3 linked regions of the Homo sapiens genome follow. The protein of the gene in region 3 interacts with the protein of the main gene of each other region in a biochemical or structural test. Each region holds a gene or a part of one and is shown on either strand. Other genes may lie near its edges. The genes, in order: ANXA2, NOSTRIN and SOS1.

Evidence for each region.
Region 1: the proteins of SOS1 (region 3) and ANXA2 form a complex in vitro, tested with the Homo sapiens proteins (one study listed by BioGRID).
Region 2: the proteins of SOS1 (region 3) and NOSTRIN form a complex in vitro, tested with the Homo sapiens proteins (one study listed by IntAct).

Annotation. Positions count from the first base shown.
Region 1 is NC_000015.10:60,359,206-60,367,576, forward strand, and holds part of ANXA2 (annexin A2), read right to left. Parts: intron 5,319-8,371; coding exon 5,224-5,318; intron 1,850-5,223; coding exon 1,736-1,849; intron 1-1,735. UniProt on the Homo sapiens protein: Calcium-regulated membrane-binding protein whose affinity for calcium is greatly enhanced by anionic phospholipids. It binds two calcium ions with high affinity. May be involved in heat-stress response.
Region 2 is NC_000002.12:168,797,752-168,806,490, forward strand, and holds the start of NOSTRIN (nostrin), read left to right. Parts: upstream 1-4,885; 5' UTR 4,886-4,895; coding exon 4,896-4,922; intron 4,923-8,739. UniProt on the Homo sapiens protein: Multivalent adapter protein which may decrease NOS3 activity by inducing its translocation away from the plasma membrane.
Region 3 is NC_000002.12:38,980,104-38,985,477, forward strand, and holds the end of SOS1 (son of sevenless homolog 1), read right to left. Parts: 3' UTR 5,261-5,374; coding exon of another isoform or gene 5,207-5,260; 3' UTR 1,446-5,206; downstream 1-1,445.

The sequences.
Region 1 (8,371 bases), on a different chromosome or scaffold from region 3:
CATTGGGCCCAATTACATAGATTACAACAGTGACTGACAGCTCAAAAAGGTCTGTTTCAAGTCCCTAATACCTAGTAATAGATACCAGTAAAGCCACTCGAATCACAACTAAATAGATTCTTGATGAAAATAAGACAAACTGATCTGAAGTGTTGATGGTCAGAAGAAACCTAGGAGAGGCTGACTCATCCCTGCCTCCAAAGGTCCACAGACTCGGTTTTCAGGAGCGCTATTTTTATCAACCAGGATCATGAAATGTTGTCGACATTTTATCATTCTTAATGACGTCTTTTCTGCAGTACAGTCTACTTAGGAAACTCAGACAAGTCCGCTAAAATAAACTGAGCACAGCTTGGGCTAAGCTGAAGAACTAAAGGAAGAAAGAGACTTAACAACAAATCTTACAGCAGCCCTGAGCTATCAAATTCCAGGCTTTGGAGATGCCCAGTGTCCGAAGCACCCTCACTCTTGTGTTCTCTGGGAAAAGGATGACAACTGAACTGTGACATTAGCTCTGGTGACAGGCTTACAGCTCAGACTGTTCATAATTCAGGAACAGTGGCATCAGAGAAAACAGACTCGGAATAAAAAATCAAGACCAATGGTTTCCCTCATCTACAGCGCAGACTTTACCCATGTATATCAGCAGAGGGCAGTGTCGGACTGTTCAAATGCTGCAGACCCACACTAAGAAAAGGGTCCAAATGTGTTGCAGTACAACATACATTAATGTGTGTGCATCTATTGCATTTATATAAAACTTGATGTTGGCCAGGCGCGGTGGCTCACGCCTGTAATCCTAGCACTTTGGGAGGCCAAGGTGGGCAGATCACCTGAGGTCGGGAGTTTGAGACCAGCCTGACCAACATGGAGAAATCCCGTCTCTACTAAAAATACAAAATTAGCTGGGCGTAGTGGCGCATGCCTGTAATCCCAGCTACTCGGGATGCTGAGGCAGGAGAATCTCTTGAACCCGGGAGGCAGAGGTTGCAGTGAACTGAGATCGCGCCATTGCACTCCAGCCTGGGCAACAAGAGCGAAATCCATCTCAAAAAACAAAACAAAACAAAACAAAAAACTTGATATTTTAAGTATGCACAAAGTTCAGGAGGTTTCCAATCTACAGTTTTTACTTAATTTAACCTAAAATTCCAGGTTCAAAAGAACTTTACAAAAGAAAAACATAAAAGATAACGTGCATTGAGACTTCACAGTTACTTTCTCACAGGTACGATTCAGGTACGATTCTTCATCCAGAATTACCCCTTATATGCACTATGATGTTCTGATTCTGCCTGAATTTGAAACAAATGGTACTGACAGAGAGAGTATGGGAGGAAGAAACACCCACGAAAGGATGGGCAGAATTTGCAAGCTTCACTTAACAAAAGCTATGAGTTTTTTTTTCTTGCCTTAATATCACAACATATCTTTTTAAAGGAGGAAGTGTAATCAAGGAAGTAGTTTTCCCAAATGGTATTCCAATTGCCCAGGTGCTGAGTAGTAGCAGCTGGTAACTGACTTCTCAGCATCATGAAATTTCTTTACAGTCTTAAAACAAGTAATTGAAATATTTTTGGTACAAATCCTGAGACATATAACTTCAGTTCATTTTTAAAAAATGGTTCCAAATGAGAATTCAACAAAACTGAAAATCACCAAATTACACTCAGAAAGCTGTAATTCACAAAATTAATAGCAGATTTGACAGAGATGACATCTCACATGCATTTACCTTCATGGAAGCTTTTAGCTCAGAAGCGTCATACTGAGCAGGTGTCTTCAATAGGCCCAAAATCACCGTCTCCAGGTGGCCAGATAAGGCTGACTTCAGTGCTGATGCAAGTTCCTTCAAGATAACAGGCAATCATAAGGAAAATATTTATTTTACTTTAAAACTAGTGAGTAAAACAAAAGTAAGAGGGATCTTTTTGTGAAGCAGGTTGTGAGTCTTTGACCACTCCGGAGTCTTGGGTCAAACGCCCTCAACTGCATTCCCTTCAACAGACCCACATCTCAGAAACATAAACATCAGGCTTTGCTTCAACGAAATTCCTTAAAATCCAAGTTAATTTTGCCGTCTTCCCCGGTCAATAAAAGGAAACTGGAGTCGTATGTGATTCCTAAGAAAGCTGTGAGAGTGCAGGCACTTTGCAATATGCTTGAAAGCAGTAACACTCCGTGGAAGGCAGGACGCTTTCGGAGATCAAGGCCCCTGCTAAGAAGGAGATGTTTGAGCAGACAGCCTCCTGGCAAGCAGATCTTGTGGCCTCCCGATATACTGTAAAAGACGTGGGGGCAGCCATTCCAGCGGCAGCTCCTCAAAGTCACCAGAAGGAACCAGAGGCCGCAACACAGTTGGAAGTGAGGTCATGAAACTTTCCTATGCAAAACACTTCATCTAATACTGAGAAAATATCTCCTTGTCCACACCAAACTCGGACGGTGTTTAATGGAAGTGATAGGAAACTAACACCCCCGAACTGGCCCCCTTGAATTCCCTGCTGCATGTAATTTCTTAAGGGTTGGATCCACTGTCACCATGAACACAAAAATTTGTCAGAGGTCTGGTCAGCACCCATGTATGTAGACAGACACCCCAACTCAATGTGTCTTTTAGCGATGCTTCCTCGAGCTAAACTTCCTACAAATCATGGCTGATGACTGAAGCCTCCTACTGAAATAATGTTCTTCTTTTCGCTTTTTTTTTTTTCTTCTCTCTCTTCTTTCTTTCCTTGCTTTCTAAGAGCACCTGTGGCATCTACAAAGCTTAGCCCCTACAGGTACTTGCAGGCTACGAGAGGTGATTTGCAGCATGCTTCAGAGACAACCATGCTGAATCATTCGTAGATGTCAAAAGTGTTAGAACTGACATGGATCTTAGAAGCCACCTGGCTTTCACCACCCATTTTCTCCTGCTTCCCAATGTCCCGGGAACACACGGCACTTAGGAGGGGACTGTAAAAGCAGTAGCTCCCAATTATAACACCAGTCTCCCAGTTTGGAACTTTGAGGTTAGGTAACTCCAAACTTAGCCTACCCTTGACACTCCCCTCTACCCATTCTCTATTCAAACCTCAAATAGCATTTGGGCACCTACTGACTTCTTCCACTTCTATTCTAAACTCCTTATGGGCGTTCAACTTCCTGTTTCTCACAATGTCCAGCACAGAGCTTTGCATTTAACAAAAACTAAACAAAAACTCCAGAAATGTATGATAAATCAAACATAACCCTTCCCTGTAAGGAGAAGCCTCGCATCTGGCGTCTGCTAGAACATGAAAGAGTCGTAAAAGCAGCTGTCTCTCCCAGCTCCTCTCCACTCTGCCAGCCGGGCCTAGGTTCTTCAAGCTCATCACCTGGGCAGCTGCAGCCCGTATCCCTAAAGAACTCTGCAGCACAAATCTTCCTTATTTCACAAATTTTCTTCTTTATTTCACAAACAGCCGATTGTTTCACTTGAAACTATCTCAAGTAGTTTACATATCTTTTATAAAAGATACATAATTCTCCTTGGCCTAAGGCTGAGAGTCAAGAATTAGTAGGATGATGAGCTGTCCCCAGCACACAGCAAAGCCTGTGAGATCTTGGGACCTCATCATAATTCTGGTAATATCTTCCCTCCTAGAGGGTATGTGGGAGCTTTGTTCTACATATATCTAATCTAAAACCAAGATCTAGGTTTTGGGTGTGGTGGCTTATGACTGTAATCCCAGCAGTTTGGGAGGCTGAGATGAATCATTTGAGTCCACATGGCAGAAGTTGCAGTAAGCCGAATCACACCACTGCAATCAAGCCTGGGTGACAGAGCAAGACCCTGTCACAAAAAAAAAAAAAAAAAAAAAAAAAAAAAGTTTCAGGCTTCTATGTGTGTGTGTACACACCCAAATGTATTCCAAGACCATACTCTGTGACAGCTGAAAGATCAAATTTTTTGCTTGCTATCCAGAGATGAGCCTTCTGCTCCACTGGGAACTTGGCTCTACCAGCTCACAGACCCCTTTGGGAAGCTGCAGAAATAAAACACTCCCCTCTATGCCTCACTACACAAGATTAATACACTTCTAGTGAAAGAAGAATTTTAATGCACTTGAGATGAAAGAAGCCAGATGCTTTCCTATTTATGTCCTTTCCAACCATTTAGAGTGCGGGGGATGGAAGTGTAGCAAGGCTTGACCTGCAACTCCCAGGACCCTGCTGGTCATGTCAATCCCAAGGGCAGAAATATCTCTTCTAGAATCCTTCCAGCTCACCTCCACTGTGGCTACAAGTGAAAGCCATAAGTCAAACGGGAGCTGCAGGAAGCCACACTTACTGCACTGTCCAAGAATAAATCAAAAGCTTTTAATAGCAAGAAGTTAAAAATAAAGCAGCACGTCCTTAAAAATAAAATTTCCTACAACTGACAAAATAAAGGACGAACACGCACTGGTTGTTTCTTAACCACTAGTGGACAAGCAAAGGGAAAAAGCACACAAAGACCCTTTAAATAGTAGGAGCATGGCATGTTGAAGATAGCTTTGCAGACCAAATGAACTAACAACTAAGCCCACTCGTTGCAAAAAGCTTAAGAATTCAAGTGTATATTTTTAAAATGAGAGGAGCTTGTTAGGATCAACACTCAGTGGAGGCTAGTATCCTAAAATTAAATTAGAAACATCTTATCAAGAACCAGCAGAAGTCATAAAGATGAAATGAGTTGCTACATGTACAAAACTGAGCACAGTGCCTGGCCCAAAGTAAGCACTCAATAAATGGTGCCTGTTGTTGTTATTGTTGTTGTTCCCTATTCCTAACTTTCTATTCCCAGAAGCTCTCCCTCCAGGTAGCCTGGGTTGGGGGAGGGTACTGTCCTTACACAGGAGCTCCCAAGCACTCTAAAGCGAGCGTGACCATCTGCGCTCTGCCTCCTCTCAGATCAACGGTGGCATGAGATTCTCACAGAAGCGCGAACCCTACTGTGAACTGCACACGCGAGGGATCTATGTTGTACACTCCTTATGAGAACCTAATGCCTGATGACCTGAGGTGCACGCGCGCGTGCACACACGCACACACACATGTGCAGTGACTCTTACAAGGATTTAAGAAGAAAATCTTAGATATCCAAGGGTCCCACAAGTCTTTTGCGCATGAGAGCCACAATTCATGAAAAGAAAAAGCAATGTCTGAGGAAACAAAAATTCAACAAGAAATGCCCTCCATCCCTGGAATTGCCTGTACCTTTTTGGTCCTTCTCTGGTAGGCGAAGGCAATATCCTGTCTCTGTGCATTGCTGCGGTTGGTCAAAATGTTGACAATGGTGACCTCATCCACACCTATGGAAATACAAGTTGTTAATCGTTACTCAGTATACTCTAGTATTTTGGGCTTACATAGAAGGTGTCAAGCAGACTTTTTCAAACTGAAATTTATATACTGTTTTCCAAACTGAAATACCCAGACACCAAGATTTGTTCTATCTCTTTCGTCAGCATCCTCTACCCAATGTGTACACTCTCTTTCCTTTTTTCTTGAGAGCCTCAAACCTCAAGCTTAAATGGACCTTTTAAATACTTGTGGTTTAAAAACTATTTTATTCATAAATTGGTTTCTGGAATCAACAGTAGGAGGTGCATATGTGGGGCTTTGGCAGTCAGATGGAACAACAGAGATTTAGTAGGATTTTAAATGAAGGTCCCCAAATTGCCATTTAACTCGGGATTTAATAGAGAGTAACTGCAAACTGAATTAATAGAGATAATTATTTATACTTATTGCAGGATTATGGCTATATAAGCAGCTAGGTATAATTTCTATAATTATAAAAACTGTCATGACAAATGAGTCAGATTTAACACGGCAGTTGTATTTTTAATAGCATAATTGATTAACACAATCACACTTATTGAAGACAAAATTGTTTTGTAAGGAAAATAAACGTTCCACTGCCTTTAATCTTCAATAGGCAATTTTAATAATTAATTTTATAACTTTATTAAAAAGAGTAAGTGTTTTAATCTAAATTAAATCTAAATTGGGAGTTTTGAGGTGCCACCAAAATATTTTAGTACCTATTTTAATTGGAACATGTGTATTTACAAAGATAAGCAATGCCTTCTGGTGTCTGCAAGTTTCCAATTTCATATCAGAAATACTCCTAACATGCCATTTAACTTAAGAAAGCACAGTTTGTAAATTCAGAATGTGAAAAGTCTCTCTCCTGACTGATTAATAACTTTGTTTAATGAAAGAAACAGTCTTTGCCATAACTGGATAGGTAACTCTTGGGTGAGAGAGTAGAGTTGCTAAACCTACAAAGTCACTTGCAAACTACAAATGGCTTGGCCTGAAGAAAATCAGAGGAGTCCTGAAGAAACAGAAAGGTCAAAACTGTAACGCTTGAGACAAAGACAAACAGCAGATTGACAGAGGAAGTATTTTGAATTCTCAAGTGTGTTAGATCAAAAAGTATAAAGTTAGAATTTCTGGGTATAAAAATAAATAACTTTTTAAAATGTATATGCTCATTTCAAAGCAAGTCCATACCAATATGCTTGCTATCTTAACTGTAGCATCTATAACTTTAGCTCTCATTTTTAGAGTAGCCAAGGTAAACATAGAAATCCAATTGCTGCTGAGTCTCCCTCTCCCTCTCCCTCTCCCCCTCCCCCTCCCCCTCCCTCTCCCTCCACGGTCTCCCTCTGATGCCGAGCCAAAGCTGGACGGTACTGCTGCCATCTCGGCTCACTGCAACCTCCCTGCCTGATTCTCCTGCCTCAGCCTGCCGAGTGCCTGCGATTGCAGGCGCGCGCCGCCACGCCTGACTGGTTTTCGTTTTTTTTTGGTGGAGACGGGGTTTCGCTGTGTTGGCCGGGCTGGTCTCCAGCTCCTAACCGCGAGTGATCCGCCAGCCTCGGCCTCCCGAGGTGCTGGGATTGCAGATGGAGTCTCGTTCACTCAGTGCTCAATGGTGCCCAGGCTGGAGTGCAGTGGCGTGATCTCGGCTCGCTACAACCACCTCCCAGCCGCCTGCCTTGGCCTCCCAAAGAGCCCAGATTGCAGCCTCTGCCCGGCCGCCACCCCGTCTGGGAAGTGAGGAGCGTCTCTGCCTGGCCGCCCATCGTCTGGGATATGAGGAGCCCCTCTGCCTGGCTGCCCAGTCTGGAAAGTGAGGAGCGCCTCTTCCCCGCCGCCATCCCATCTAGGAAGTGAGGAGCATCTCTGCGCGGCCGCCCATCGTCTGAGATGTGGGGAGCACCTCTGCCCCACCGCCCTGTCTGGGATGTGAGGAGCGCCTCTGCCCGGCCGCGACCCTGTCTGGGAGATGAGGAGCGTCTCTGCCCGGCCGCTCCGTCTGAGAAGTGAGGAAACCCTCTGCCTGGCAACCGCCCCGTCTGAGAAGTGAGGAGCCCCTCCGTCCGGCAACCACCCCGTCTGGGAAGTGAGGAGCGTCTCCGCCCGGCAGCCACCCCGTCCGGGAGGGAGGTGGGGGGGGTCAGCCCCCCGCCCGGCCAGCCGCCCCGTCCGGGAGGTGAGGGGCTCCTCTGCCCGGCCGCCCCTACTGGGAAGTGAGGAGCCCCTCTGCCCGGCCAGCCGCCCCGTCCGGGAGGGAGGCGGGGGGGGGGGGGGTCGGCCAGCCGCCCCGTCCGGGAGGGAGGTGGGGGGGTCAGCCCCCCGCCCGGCCGGCCGCCCCGTCCGGGAGGTGAGGGGCGCCTCTGCCCGGCCGCCCCTACTGGGAAGTGAGGACCCCTCTGCCCGGCCAGCCGCCCCGTCCGGGAGGGAGGTGGGGGGGTCAGCCCCCCGCCCGGCCAGCCGCCCAGTCCGGGAGGGAGGTGGGGGGTCAGCCCCCCGCCCGGCCAGCCGCCCCGTCCGGGAGGGGGGAGGGGGGATCAGCCCCCCGCCTGGCCAGCCGCCCCATCCGGGAGGGAGGTGGGGGGGTCAGCCCCCCGCCCGGCCAGCCGCCCCGTCCGGGAGGGGGGAGGGGGGGTCAGCCCCCCGTCCGGCCAGCCGCCCCGTCCGGGAGGGAGGTGGGGGGGGTCAGCCCCCCGCCCGGCCAGCCGCCCCGTCCGGGAGGGAGGTGGGGGGATCAGCCCCCCGCCCGGCCAGCCGCCCCGTCCGGGAGGTGAGGGGCGCCTCTGCCCGGCCGCCCCTACTGGAAAGTGAGGAGCCCCTCTGCCCGGCCAGCCGCCCGGTCCGGGAGGGAGGCGGGGGGGGGTCGGCCAGCCGCCCCGTCCGGGAGGGAGGTGGGGGGGGGGGTCAGCCCCCCTTCCGGCCGGCCGCCCCGTCCGGGAGGTGAGGGGCGCCTCTGCCCGGCCGCCCCTACTAGGAAGTGAGGACCCCTCTGCCCGGCCAGCCGCCCCGTCCGGGAGGGAGGTGGGGGGGACAGCCC
Region 2 (8,739 bases), about 130 Mb from region 3:
TGAATCGCTGGAGTTCAGGAGTTTGAGACAAGCTTGGGCAACATGGTGAGACCCTGTCTCTACCTTGTGCCTCTGTTGCCCTGTGGGTATTATAAGGATCAAAATAATACATATCTACCTCAAATGATAACTGTGATGATTAAATAAGTTAATAAGTCATCCCGCAGTATCCATGGGGCATTGGTTTCAGGATACCCCCTCATATCAAAATCCAAAGATATTCAAGTCCCTTATATAAAATAGTGTCATATTTGCATATAACCTACACACATCCTCCCATGTACTTTAAATCATCTCTAGGTAACTCATAATACCTAATGCTATGTAAACGTTATATAAATAGTCATAAATACTTATTTGTATTTTTATTGTTATTTTTAAAATTATTATTTTCAATCTACAGATGCAGAACCCAGGGATATGGAGAGCCAATTGTATTTGTAAAACACTTAGAATGGTGCCTGACACGTGGTATGTCCTTTAAATGTGGGCTCATATTACCATAAAGTATTTAACTAGGTCTCAATTGATGATGTTCATGCTGTTGCCAATTCTTTGCACGCTTTGGCTACTAAAGAAACTTCCAAGGCAAGTTTTGAATTGCCATGAGCTTCTATTACATTTGGGCTCCTTTTTCTTACTAGCTTACCAACACCCAATATTTGTTTGTGAATACTTCATAAATGCGTACTCATGTTGTTAACTCCCCTTAGAGGCAGCACAAAATGTCAAAGTTGGAGTCCAGCAGAGCAGCTTCCAGGCCAGACCCTGGAAGGGAATCCGTTGCAGGTTTTCTTTCTGCAGAGAGGCCATACCAGGAAGGCACATGCTGAGCAGAGACTGAGAAAGAAAGCAGGAAGATTAGGATAGGAGAGGTCAGACAGTAAATCTAACCGGAAGCCAGGCTGGAAAGCAGCCAGAGTATGAGTGCGGGTCAGAAATGTAGGACCAGAGACGAATCTGAGAACAGAGAACTCAAAAGGACTCTTTGTGCATTAAAATTTTCAGAAAGTGTGAATGGCATACCTTCTTGGAGGAGATGCTTCGATCGATCGATCGATCGATAGATAGATAGACAGACAGACAGACAGACAGAAGATAGTTCTTGAGAGAAGAAAAATGGCTTAGAGCAGTCTGAGCTATATGAGGTATGCAAAATTTATCAGGCCCAGAGAGGGGAGTATGGGGCTCAAGTCTTGCTCTGCCTCCTTGAACCCACACCTAGAAGCAATCATGTAAAGGCATCTTGTTCCTGACTAGCTGCCTCATCTGCTATCTTTATGGTCCTGGAATTTGTGATTCACAGAACAGTGTAGAGCCAATCAACAGCTTGTGTTATTTTCATGGAAATTCTTGGCAAACAACTCAGGAGCTTCCTCTTCCTCTTCTTTTCCTTTGAAAACCTACTTGTACCTGCTGCTAACCAGAGCGTATACTCAGGGCCACTTGAAACTATGCTCTTGGGTTGCAGCCCTCAAGCTTGGCCCAAGTAAATGCTCTACTTATATTAAGTTGGCCTCAGTTGTTCTTTCCTTTAGGTTCACATTCTCATCAACCTGTAGGTACAAATGAGGTTGTTAATATTAATTCCAAAACTACAAGATTCTTTGCTCCTCTTACTCACATGGGAACTCAGTCTCCTCCTCCCAAAGTCCCCTTGGGCCATTTTTGGGGACTGGAGGAATTCTCACATGCTCGGGGACAAATGTGCTCACTGTGGTCTGCTCTATCCTTCTCATCAAGATGCCTCACCTACCTGAGCCTCAGTGGCTGAAGACAACTTAGCAGGTTCTCCCTGCTGCTGCCTCCTCACAACCCATATCCAGGAGAGGTGCTTTTTGCTGTGCTCCTTAGCAGAGTATGTGTAGGGTGGAATGTGGGGTCAGAGGAGAGAACAGCCCTTATCCGTCTAGAGTCTTTTATGATTTAGGTCCTCTTATTTCTCTTCCTAACGCCAGTCTGCTGAGGTTCAAAACGTGTCACCCCAGGCTGGATTGGGGAGAGGGAAAGAAAGACATATACCAGCCACCTGCTCCTTGTCCTTGCTGCTTTATCTCTAGTCATTCAAGAACAAATATTAAGCAGCCATTGTAGTAAATTGAATGGAAAACTAACTCCAATTGTCTGCCCCTCTCTGTCTCTATGCCCTTTGCAATGGGACACTAAGTTCCTCCTATTATGAAGTGGAAGCTCTCCTCACCCCTTTAATCTGGGCTGGCCCATGACTGGCTTTGATCAGCTGGATGTGGCTGAAATGATGGGATGTCCATATTAAGCTGTACCTCCAGAGGCCTCGAGCTCTTCCACTCACTCTTGTGGCTCCTCTGCCATACCCTGAGAAGAGCCTGGTTAGACTACCAGCTGATGAAATACGGCCTCAGCCAACAGCTAGCTCCCAGCCAGCCCCCTGCCCAGAAAAGCCCAGATGCATGGCTCTGCCAAGCCCTGTGTAGATGACCTGCTTTTACATGAGTGAGGTCAGGGGACACCTGAAGATCCATCCAGCTAAACTACAGATTTGTGAACCAAATAAAGTCTCTGTCATTTGAAGCCACTGGGTTTCTGTTTGTTACACAGCATTATTGTGACAAAGGATAAACGATACCAACCTATTTCTGACCTCCAAAATCAAGGCTTTTTGCACATTCAAACATTCCTCCGAGAAGCTCAACAAATAGCCAAGTTCTAATTCTCAGTCTGGATTCAGCTGGGATGCCCTGCTGCCCTTACAACGGCCCAGTGGCAGACAGGAGCAAGATGGAAGGATTTTAATTCAGCAGATGTCCAGGAGGTCTGAGGGAAAGCTAGTCAGCCCACTGGGAATGGCACACATGAGGAGTTTGGGGATAGGAGTGCCCTACCAATCTATAATTCGTATACAAAGATCACAGTAGGCTTTGTGTGACAGCACTTCTTATGGAAACTGGCAAGGGAGGCCAATTTCCTCAGTTTGGACTCAGTTGGGACTGAAATGAAACACAGAACAGCAAGAAAAATGGGGCAGGAATCACAGAGAAAACATTGAGCTGTCCCAAGTCCTGGAATGGTGGCTCCGGACAAGTTTATCTAAAATCTCTGAGGGCAGAGAAGCCCCCTCAAGTGGGAATTTGAGTTACATGTTATTAACCTCAGTCTATATCCTGTCTCTAAATTTCTTTTAAAAAAAAAACAAAAAAAGAGATGGGGTGTTGCTATGTTGACCAGGCTGGTCTCGAACTCCTGGCCTCAAGCAGTCTTCCCATCTCAGCCTCCCAAAGTGCTAAGATTACAGGTGTGTGCCACTGTGCCTTACCTAAATTTCTTTTATTATACAGAGTTGCTTTGTCTAATTCTAGCCCTGTGGTAGCTACCCAAGATTGTTGTAACCTCCAGTGATCAAGTTCTTTGGATAAGCAAAGAGGGAGGGCATTAAGTGTGTGGAAAAGACCCCTCCTCTCCACTCTTGTTGCAAGGCAAGTTCTTTTCCTTAATTGTCCCCTGACTCTTCTACGTTGTTTCTGGAAGCTTTTTTTTTTTTTTTTTAGAAGTAGAGTCTCACTCTATTGCCCAGCTTTGAACCCCTAGACCCAAGAAATCCTTCTGCCTCAACCTCTTGAGTAGCTGGGACTACAGGCACATACCACCACATCCTAATTAAAAAAAAAAAATTATAGAGATAGGAATCTCCTGCTATATTGCCCAGGCTGCTCTCAAACTCCTGGCCTCAAGTGACCCTCTAGGCTCGGCCTCCCAAAGTGCTTGGATTACATGCATGAGCCACTGCAACTGGCTTATTTCTAGGGACTTTGAATGGAGCCTGCACACCAGGGGCAGGTGAATGGAGGCTGAGTCAGCCAGTCAGGTGAAAACTGAATGCTTTTAAACTCTGAAGTGTTCCACTGGACTGTGTTGATGGAGCTCCTTTCAAACTGGGGCCTGCCCTTGCCTGCCAGTCAAACAGAACTGTCCACAGTCTAGCAAATGGCTGTCGTACATCAATAGGCCATTCATTGGAAATCTAATGATTGGCAACTGGGACCACAGGTACAGGGAATGCAATAGAACTCAAGCTGTGGTTGAGTTCTTGTTCTGTCTATCCTTTTGAGTGATGAAAAATGAGGCCAGATCTAGGCAATTTTTTCTTTACATTGAAAGCTTAGCCTCTTGATCCTGTTGGGGCTGGAGCGAGTGTGGAGTTAGGCTCAGAGAAGTGGTTAATGTACGCTTTGCTCCTGATAGCTGTTTCTGAACATTCTATAGTTATAGTTCTATAGGTGTAGGTTCCTAGTTGTTTGGTGTCTGGCCCTGTGGGATTTAGGGGGTGGGGGAATATGGGCTTGGTATTTGAGAACTGGGTAACAGAGATGGTGGGGAGGTTTGGGCTCTGGATTTGTTGGTTTGCATATTAAAGGAGTGCTCACAGGCCAGTTGTTTGCTCTCTCTAGGAATTAGCTAACCCTCAGAGAGGCAGTCTGTCTCCAAGTCCATGAGGTCCCCAAAGGTCAAAGCATCATACAATACAGAAAATAAAAAGCATGATTAATACTGCAGGCTGAGAGGATATGTGTTCCTGCACTGTCAGACCAAGCGCAAGAATTGTTGGAGACATGTTACAGCTTCTCTGCCTTCTCTCAATGTTACGCTGTTCAGGACTCAGGATCCTGCCCTCTGAGGGTTTACAGAAGTCATTCTCACTATCTCACACTGGCCGTCTTGACCCAGAGCAGTTCTTTACTTTCTCGGGACACAAACGGGATGAAAGTCCAGGGCTGGGACTTCCTCCTTGGAATGTTTGACAAGGACTGACGTACTCTAGGCCCTTTGAATCCCGGAAGTCCAGGACACACCCAACCTTGATTACAGTGTCCAGAATGCTGGAGCGTAGGTGAAAGGACAAAAGCCAGACACATTTCAACATGAGGGACCCACTGACAGATTGTCCGGTGAGTAGCTCAGTGTGGTTTGTGTGCCTGCGTGTGAGGAGGGTGGAGGGTGGATTTGTATATTAATGGATTTTAACTTAAGAAATTTGAGACACTCAGAAACCAAACACATTTAGATATTGGCTGTGGTGCAAAAGTTTGTGGTTTTTCTTTGGTTCAGTTTAAAAACAGAGCTTTTTCTAGGAAATGACAGGGCAGGTAATTGTCATCTTTCCTTCTCATATTCTTGGAAAAAGTTTTGAGAGAGTAAAGCCTCATATTTGGATCCAGATGGTGGCTGTTTGGAAAACATTCTTAAGACATACACCCATGGTGCCAACATCATGTGTGGTGTGGATACAAAAACACACAGAATGTCTGCAGCCAATTTTTGGCTCTGAGAATAAAGTGAGGGAGGAGAGTTTTTGTGCCTTTTCACCCTCATTTTTTGGAGTCAAGGATCACAAGTCCTGCAGGAGGAAGGATAGACTCCCCACTCTGCCTGGCCTGCAGTGGCTCTCAGACTGGTTTAGCAGCATGTTTGTTCCATGTTTGTTCGTTTTGGTAATGTTTGGAGCACTACCAAAAATATAAGTTTGGTCAGAAGTCCAAAGACATTGTGAGGTCTCCGGCGGCAATAGCAGAGATGTAATTTAGGAGATAAGAAGCAACTAAAATAAAGGGGGGGATATGTTTACTTTGAAAATAAAGTAATTAAGGAGGGTCAGTGTTTTATCCCAACACATGGGGCTGAAAAGCTAAGATTGGTGACATCATAAGCAGGAGGTTGCAGTCATCCTTCATGTATTGATAACACAAACTGTGGGGCGGCAGATAAATGGGCGCTGAGATAAAGTCATAAAGAAAAAGATCAGCAGAGGATTATTGATTTCCTTTTTGTTTATTCAATGGATAAGAAAAGCACATGGTTGGAAAAAATGGAACTATAGTTACTATTGCAGAAAATCAGATGAGCTAAATGAGATGAACTCATAAATGACTAGTAATTTTAATAATGACAACATAGTAGCCAATTCTGCCTAATTTTCCTTTTTTTAAATACAGAAATAATTTGTGCTTAATGTAGAAACAAATTCCAATGATATGGTTATATATAGATTTTTAAGAGTGAAACTTCCCCCTTTAATTACTTCAATCTCAGTGTTCTCTCCATTGTTAATTGTGAATAATTTTTAAGAAGTCTTTTATCATTTATTTTTCTCTCCTTGAGGTTGCTCCCTGACTAAACTGTTAAATCCTCTCCTGTCTCAACACTCCTACCTCAATGTTTTTGTATAGGGGCGGCAGGCCAGGACAGGGATGGGGTAAGTGGCAGCAAAATCTTGGCACTAATAGTAACCAAAGAAGAAAATTAACACCAGGGAAGGGTGCAATGGACAGAAGACAGGGAAATGGTGGGCAGCTTTAATTAAGTTTAAAAAGAGAAGAAGAAATAAATCCATAAAAAAGAAACTGAAGGTCTAACATCCTTTTTGTAGACAGCAAAGTCAAGTCTTCAGACGTGGAGAAATGTTTTCTTTCAGCAGCCCCCAAGGCAACCCATAACCACACTTCTGTGTCTGCTTAAAGCTCCACTCCCTGGCATGCTGAATAGTTCCTTGTGCTATGCTGGGCCAAGGACTCCTGTCCTTGTCTAAAACTTTGAAGGTCATCTGTATGGGCTCATTGCCACCAAAAGTATCCGGGAGTCATGGGGAGGGCGGATATCCCTTCAGCCTGGGTTTCCAAACCCTCTAAACTCACAGAACATTTATTTATTTGCAATTGTTTCATCTTAATCAAGTGTTCAAGTTGATTTCCTGGCACATTCTTAGCTTGTACTTGGGGAACAATGCTATGTGAAGATGAATCTGCGGTTTGGGAACAAAATAAGACAAGGAAATGGATTGCAAATGAGTGCCTCATGAAACATTTAGGTAGTTTTATAAAAGAACCCAAAGCTTTAACCACCTGCAAAATGTCCCCTTCCATGAGTCCCTAGAGTTGCACAGAGCACAGTTCATAAAGTATTAGCTTAGCTACTGTTCTTAACCGGGCCCACACCAATGTACCCATGTATGGAACTCAGTGGGTTGCATGAACTTCAGTGAAAAAAAATCTCTATTTGTACTAATTTCTAACTGAAATTTAGAATTTTATTCAATCCAGAATATAGGCAACAAGCCCCAATACTATTAGTCATATCTGTATAGTGTCTGTGACTTTGTAACCAATAAAAATCAGAAATTTTATGATAACATTACAGTTGTTGCACATATCTAGAAATATTTACATTCACCCTGACTTCAAAATGTTGGTAATACTTAAGATATGTAATTTAGTATGTTAATAAAAAAGCACATAATATCATAATTTTAAAAATACATTCTAAAAAATATATAATTCATTTCCTTTTTAACCCTACGCTACTTAAAAATGTTATTCTGAATCAAATAGGTTTCATGAGACTACAAAAAGGGCTCATGGTACGAAAAAATTTAAAAATCTCTTTTAGATCAAGCTCTAATGGGCAAAATAGACTGACAGCTGGGCCTTTCAACCTCAAAGAGCAAGGTCAGTGTTTGAGTTCAAATTGTTGCCAGGGTGGCATAAGATTGCCTAAATGCTGTGTAGGATTAATCTTGAGAGTGTCAGAACTTATTTGAAAAAGATATCTGTAAGATATCTTTAAAGTTCTGTTTTTGACAAGGAAAAGAATTGGCTCTGGGCCTTGATGTTTCATTGCCTATGAAGGTTTAGGTTTAGCTCTTAAACCTAAAAATATGTCTAGGGAACTCATCTTCAAATCCATGTGCAAGAAAGGCGAAGTAAGATCCAATTATCTCTAAGGGAAAGAATCCAATCATAAGAAAGTATTAATAGCACCTTCCTATCAAACAATCACATAGAAATCAAGGACAAGTAACAAGCTGTAGCCAAATTTTTGCTTTTTACACACTCATACAGTATCCAGGAAGGGGTCTGTCAAAGCAAGTCTTCTGGGCGCCACACAGTCAGCCCCTCCCCGCATGTCATCGGCCATTGAAATGGCACCAGGCTGCTCCTCAGGTTGGTAACCTGGCTCAGATGCCAACCTGAGCTTCCCATCTTGGTGGCTTAGCCTGGATATCAGACAATGACTGTCACTAACTCAGATGGTGCCGGTGCCATGGTCCGTAGCTCCTAGGAGAATCTGACTCGCTGCAAAAATACAGAAGGAGGCTGCATATGGCATGGGTGTCACGTGGCCCACAGCCTCCCCAGTGTGCATCAGTGAGATGTGTAACATGCCATTCCACATTTCTTGGACCTCTGTTTCCTTGTGTGTAAAGTAAAAGGAGGAAAGGATGGAGTAGACTATGCTCTTTAATGTTCCATATCCCGTAATCTATGACAGTCTGCCACAGGGATTCCAAATACTACGCAGATGGTGAACAAGTACATGGAATCCCTTCAGAGAGGGGCAGTGCTTTGAAACATCACCCCCAGTGAATCAGAACTCACATGATATCAGTAGCACAGTGCCTGGCGTAGTAAAGGCAGTCAGCAAAGTTCATTGTGTTAAATTTAAGGGGAATATCATGGTTTCTTTAACACTGTGAGGATCATCACTAATCAAAAAAAATCCTTCTGTACTAGCATCAATAAAAATAAATTTTTCTATAACTTTTTCTAGAACTAAATTTAACCCTCTTAATCATTCAAGCAGAAAGAGCAGGTGGGCCAAGCTTGATATAGGCACTTTATAATCTTTACAAGTCGCCTGTCTAAACATTTCATGTGCTGACTGGCTGGATTACTAAATGTTTTTTGTAATGGCTATATTTATCAACAGAAT
Region 3 (5,374 bases):
ACTAGATTATAAAACCCCATGATGACATGTACTTTTGCCTGTTTTGTTTATTGCCATATTCCTAATATCAGAATTGTACCTGAAGAATAAATATTTGTTGAATGCTGAATAGTCAGATGGGCCCTTATCAAATGCTTATAACCTAAGGTCACTCAGAACTAATTTAAGTGATGATAAACAGCAAAGGAAATCATAAAGAATCAAATTATGAGGGCTTCAGAATAAGCAACCAACCTCTTAGAAGATACCTAAAAGCCAGTAAACTTTGACAATGCATCCCTCGTAACTTTAGTTAGCATTTACTAAGCACCTACTCTGTGAAAGGCATGTGCTTTACACATATTACCTTTAAACCTCATAATAGCCTCAAACAGTACATCTGTTAACCTCCTTGTATTGATGAGAAACAGATTAAATAACTAACTTCTGCAAAGACATGATTCCAAAGCACCTGCTTGTTCCTATCACATTGATTCTTCCTTTTCTTGATGAGTTACTGAGGTAGAGAAATTAGCTGTTAAGTGGGCTACAGTTTTTCTTGCCTCCAGTAAGAATCAAGAGTCCTAAAATGTTAGAATGGCCATAAACTGCTTTTTTGGAATTGTACTCTGTATTGAAGCCATCCTTCCCTCTGGACACCATGTGCAGCTATCAGCAAAAAGGCAGGCTTAACTATGGACTGTACCAAACAGACTAATCTGCGATGACCTAAGAGGATTAAAATAAGTTAAAAAGTAAATCACTGGGTTAAAGCTCAGAATAAGTGATAATTCAAGAGAAAATTCAGAATCAAGTTTAACAAAAACATTATTGTCCTATAACTATTAAATTTATTACCTAGAATATACTCGATAATTCATGCTTGGACTGCCACATGATATTGGCTAAGTCATCTCATTTCTCTAGGCCTCATCTACCTTAATTTTTAAATCAGGGGATTGGCTCTCTAAGGATTCATCAATTTTTACATCCTATAGTTCACACTGAATGACGGTACATTTGCATCATTCTTTAGTTACAACCCTAAACTCACATTTTCATGCCAAGCCTAGAAAAAGAATTGCTAAAGGTCAGGCTACCTCATTCCAGCAGATCTCAGCAAAAGCTGCCTGTCAGGGAACGTGATATCTCAAAACTTCTTTTATGGAATACAAATGCCTTAGCACTCTGAAACTTCATCCAGGTGACACTCAAGGTCACTTTAAATTACTAGTTTTCATCCCAGAGGCCTCCCACTCACTACAATCAATCAGCAGATTTGACACAGAGGAAATGTGGAACTTCTTTTATCCTTTTATAACTTGATACAGGAAAAAAGTGCCTCCAAAGAAAGACCACAATAAAAATGCAAAATATTTCTATATGGCATATATGAGCTAAATGAGAATCACTAATGATTTCAAAAATACTGCCCTCTAAAATAAATACATGCAAAAATAATACACTTGTGGGCTATGTAAGGCATTTTTCTTTATTATTTTTCAGTTTATCTTAGTAATGCCAGAAAAATAACAGCCGTTATTTTCACTTTAAATGCAAACCAAATACTGCTGCACACAGAGTACAAAGATTACCTATGAACATGGTTAGGTACAAAGGCCATATTAGATGTATAGACCACACTTTGTTCTTACATCAAAGACCGACCGACAGAGCAATTTTTTGACAATTATTTTAGCAAATAACCGTGCTACTAAACAAAGGCAAATACACATATATACACAAACACGTCTCAACTAAAATTATACATGTCACTTTGACAAACAAATTCTCTGGTGGTTTCACCAGATATTTGCACCCCAAAGTTCCCTGCCCAAATCCCGACCCCAAATGCTGACTTGATCTGAAGAAAAAAATTAGAGATGTTCTTAATTAAAGGCACATTTGGCAGCTACTGAAAGTGGCATGCATCTGGCACAGGTGCGCTCTCCCTAAGCCACACCACATGTACCTTCCATCATCTGTTATGCATCTTGTTTCTTTGAGTGGTAGTCCAATGTGACCCACTGTTAGCTAATTTGCTTTATAATTCTGCAGCAATTGGCTACTTAATGCACTATTTTCATTAAAGGCAAAAGGGAAATTTGCTCACAGTCGACAGAAAATGCACTTTACGGTGTCAAAAATGGAAAATAAGGCATGGAATTTACTAAACAAGTTACAAGTGCTTTTGTTGTTTAGATTTATAATATAGACTTCATGCTTCTTAAGTAGAGCTCAAAATATTTCATTGGCTCATGTATAAGGGATTATGAAATAATCTTAAAAGTTAGTAATGAGATGTTTCAAAGAAGAAAAATATTGAATAAAGTCATCATGTTCCCTTATAAATAACTTTACTGCATAATTCTTTCAGCCAAACCAATATTAACCTTGTGATGTTTAGTTACTGGTAAAGATTAATGCAATACAACAGGACCTATACTTGCGTAGTCACACAATATATGTTAAAAGAATAAGTAAACCTATTCACAGCAGCAGAATACCAAGAAATAAATGGTTAAACTGTTTCTTTCTAAATCTGAAGGAACAAAAAGGTTTTCTTCAATATGTACAACACTAATAAATTGGGACACTCCTCCTATTTTGCTGAGTCACTTAAAAATCTGAATTTAAGCTGTCATATTAGAAGACAAACAATGAAATACAAGATTAAGCTAAACTTGAGAATTAAGATCATGACCATAAATACCAACTAATTTTTGGTTTACATAAGGTAATTTTTGATTTATGGAGGGAAAAAAACCTTTAAGAATTTAGAATCATAATATAGCCTCCAGCTGACATAGTAATTGTTCTCTGGGCTGTTGTTGACTGTAGTATTAGTGTGGCATGCTCTTTGTCAAATTCAGATCCATTAAAGCATCCTTGAGTTGTTAGAGAATAGTAACCTACTAAACATAATTTGATGCCCAACAACCTTTAATTAAGCGAACTCTCAATGTATGTTTCCTGATAATGTGTAGTCTTAAAATACATCAGCCTTGAAATATTTTCATTTCTAAAAGAAATGTTCCACATTTTGGAATGTGGTTAACAAAAAGTCATGCTGCATTTACCCCCTTGTAATGTCCAGGATTCAAAAGCAGAATTTTGTAATGATGCATTTATCTCCTCAGCCATTTCTGGTCCCTGATTAAATAGATTTTCATTACTACAAGGATAAATTTGTCAACTAGTTAATGTTTCATATTGAGAAGAAGGCAAGGATGCCATTTTCTCACCTCCACCTAAGGGCATCCAATTGGCATTTTTCTAATCAGTTACCACTGCAGAAAATATTTTTACCTAAATGTAACAGTTCAGAATAAAAATATCCTCCATCCACAATGCATGTAAAACTGTTGCACAGTGAAGTGGTCTCCTAGAACCATGGGGTAGAAGAATAGTTCCCTTTGGGAGAAATAGGATTAGAACTCCAAATCTGAATTTTTCCTCTTTATAGACTAGATAGGTTGAAAAGGGGTTATCACCTTATTGAAGGCTAACACATTAGCCGAAGACATACTGAAGGGGGTCCAATGTGACTTTTACCAGGTTCTCATTTGGAATGTGCCTGGGGCAATTAAAAAGAGAAGTAATCCATGAGACATAAAAAGAGAAATCTTAGGGACAATGAGGCTGGCCCAGTATAAAGTCCAGGGAGATTCTGGACTGTCTATCATGATTAGTTGTAGCGGCTCTAGTAAGTTGGCTCACATAAATACTGTTGAATGGATGGTCTTAGGGACACTTTGCATCCAAGAGGGGATTTGAAATTAATGTTTTAGGACGCTTTTCAAAGAGGAAATATTTTATAAAGAGAAGAATGGCTACCATCATAGGAATGGTACAGATATTGAGAAAGGATTCAATTCTAACAAATAAATAAGAAAATAGGATAGACTGCTTAATGATGGTGCAGTTAACATACCTTCTGGTCTTAAAGGACTACATACTGTACTATCGTGATGTACATTTTATGCTCTAATAAATATCATAGGAAATTATTAAAGTACTAGGTTCCCACCATGTTGCAGCACTTCTAAAAATGTCTCTAATGGTGTGGTTAACAGAATTGCTGAAATGTTGCTTCATTATTCAGAGGATACATGCAGATGCTGATGAACCAGATAAACTCTCTAAGGATGGAATACTGCACATTTCACAGACATTATAGTGGAGATTAATAAAATGTTTTCTCTTCAACAAGGTGCATGCATTTCAGTCACAGTATTTGTTAGACTCAGAAGAACAGTACATACGCTTTATGAATAATCCATATTATGATAGTAATGATGCAGGTAGATGTTCTATTATGAATAGTTTTGATAAAGCAGAAAACCTCAAGCAAGGTAGAATGTTCAATATAAACCTTAACAAACTGTATACTTGTTGCTTAGGAACTTAAAACTTACTTACAAAGTTCTGCTTAAAAGATACCCATCCTATTCTAACCAAGTATCTTCCTATATGCCAAGCTGTGACTTTAGATCATTCTTTAAGATTAATACATATATCCAGAACTAGAAACCAAGGCGTACCACAAAACGTGCTTTTATGTTTAGTGTTTTTGTGTGTTTTTCAACTAAAAGAAATAAGAATCAACCATTTTCTTCATATAATAATTTAATATATGCCAGCCAAACAAAGTATTTGTATCTTTATTCAATTAAATTAAAACAGACCTGCCAGGTATATTATATAACATTCACTATATACATATGATTTAGGCAATGCAAGATAATTCTAGATATGCTGATTACTCAACTATGTGTAAAACATGAGCGGTGTCAGTGATGCCCAGCAAGTGCTCCTTTTCACATTGGGTGCCTGCATTTCCATGGTATGGTTAGAGGGATAGCTACGAGCCATGACATGGACTACCAGTAAACTTCTGTGGGAGAAGGAGGGAAAATGACAATCTAGCATAGATGAACAGTCTCCTAAATGCAAATAGAATAGTTGACAGTTATTTTTTTTTAAAAAGTTCTTCTGTCATGTTAATGACACAAAACTTCTCTTTTTTGAAGGCAACACCACCACATTTTGTTTGGGTGTGTGGGGACAGGTGGGGGGAATGCTCTTAAAATTGGTACAATTATTCCTAAAACAACAACAACAACAAAAAAGTACCTCTTTGGTGAAGCCTCGGTACCCATTCAGTTCACCGTAATAATCTGTAAACAGGCCTGTAGTACAGTGCCGGGCCTTGATTTCAACAAGGTCAGGTACCACAGCCTTTCCTCACAGTCCTTTGAGTGATTTTTAAGAAAATATTCTAAAGTAGAAGAGTAAAGCAAAGGAAAACAAAGGAAGATATTAAGATCCCTGTTTAAGTTTTTTTTTTTAAAAGTGCATAATTTGAATTACAAAAACTGTCATGTGGGCCTGC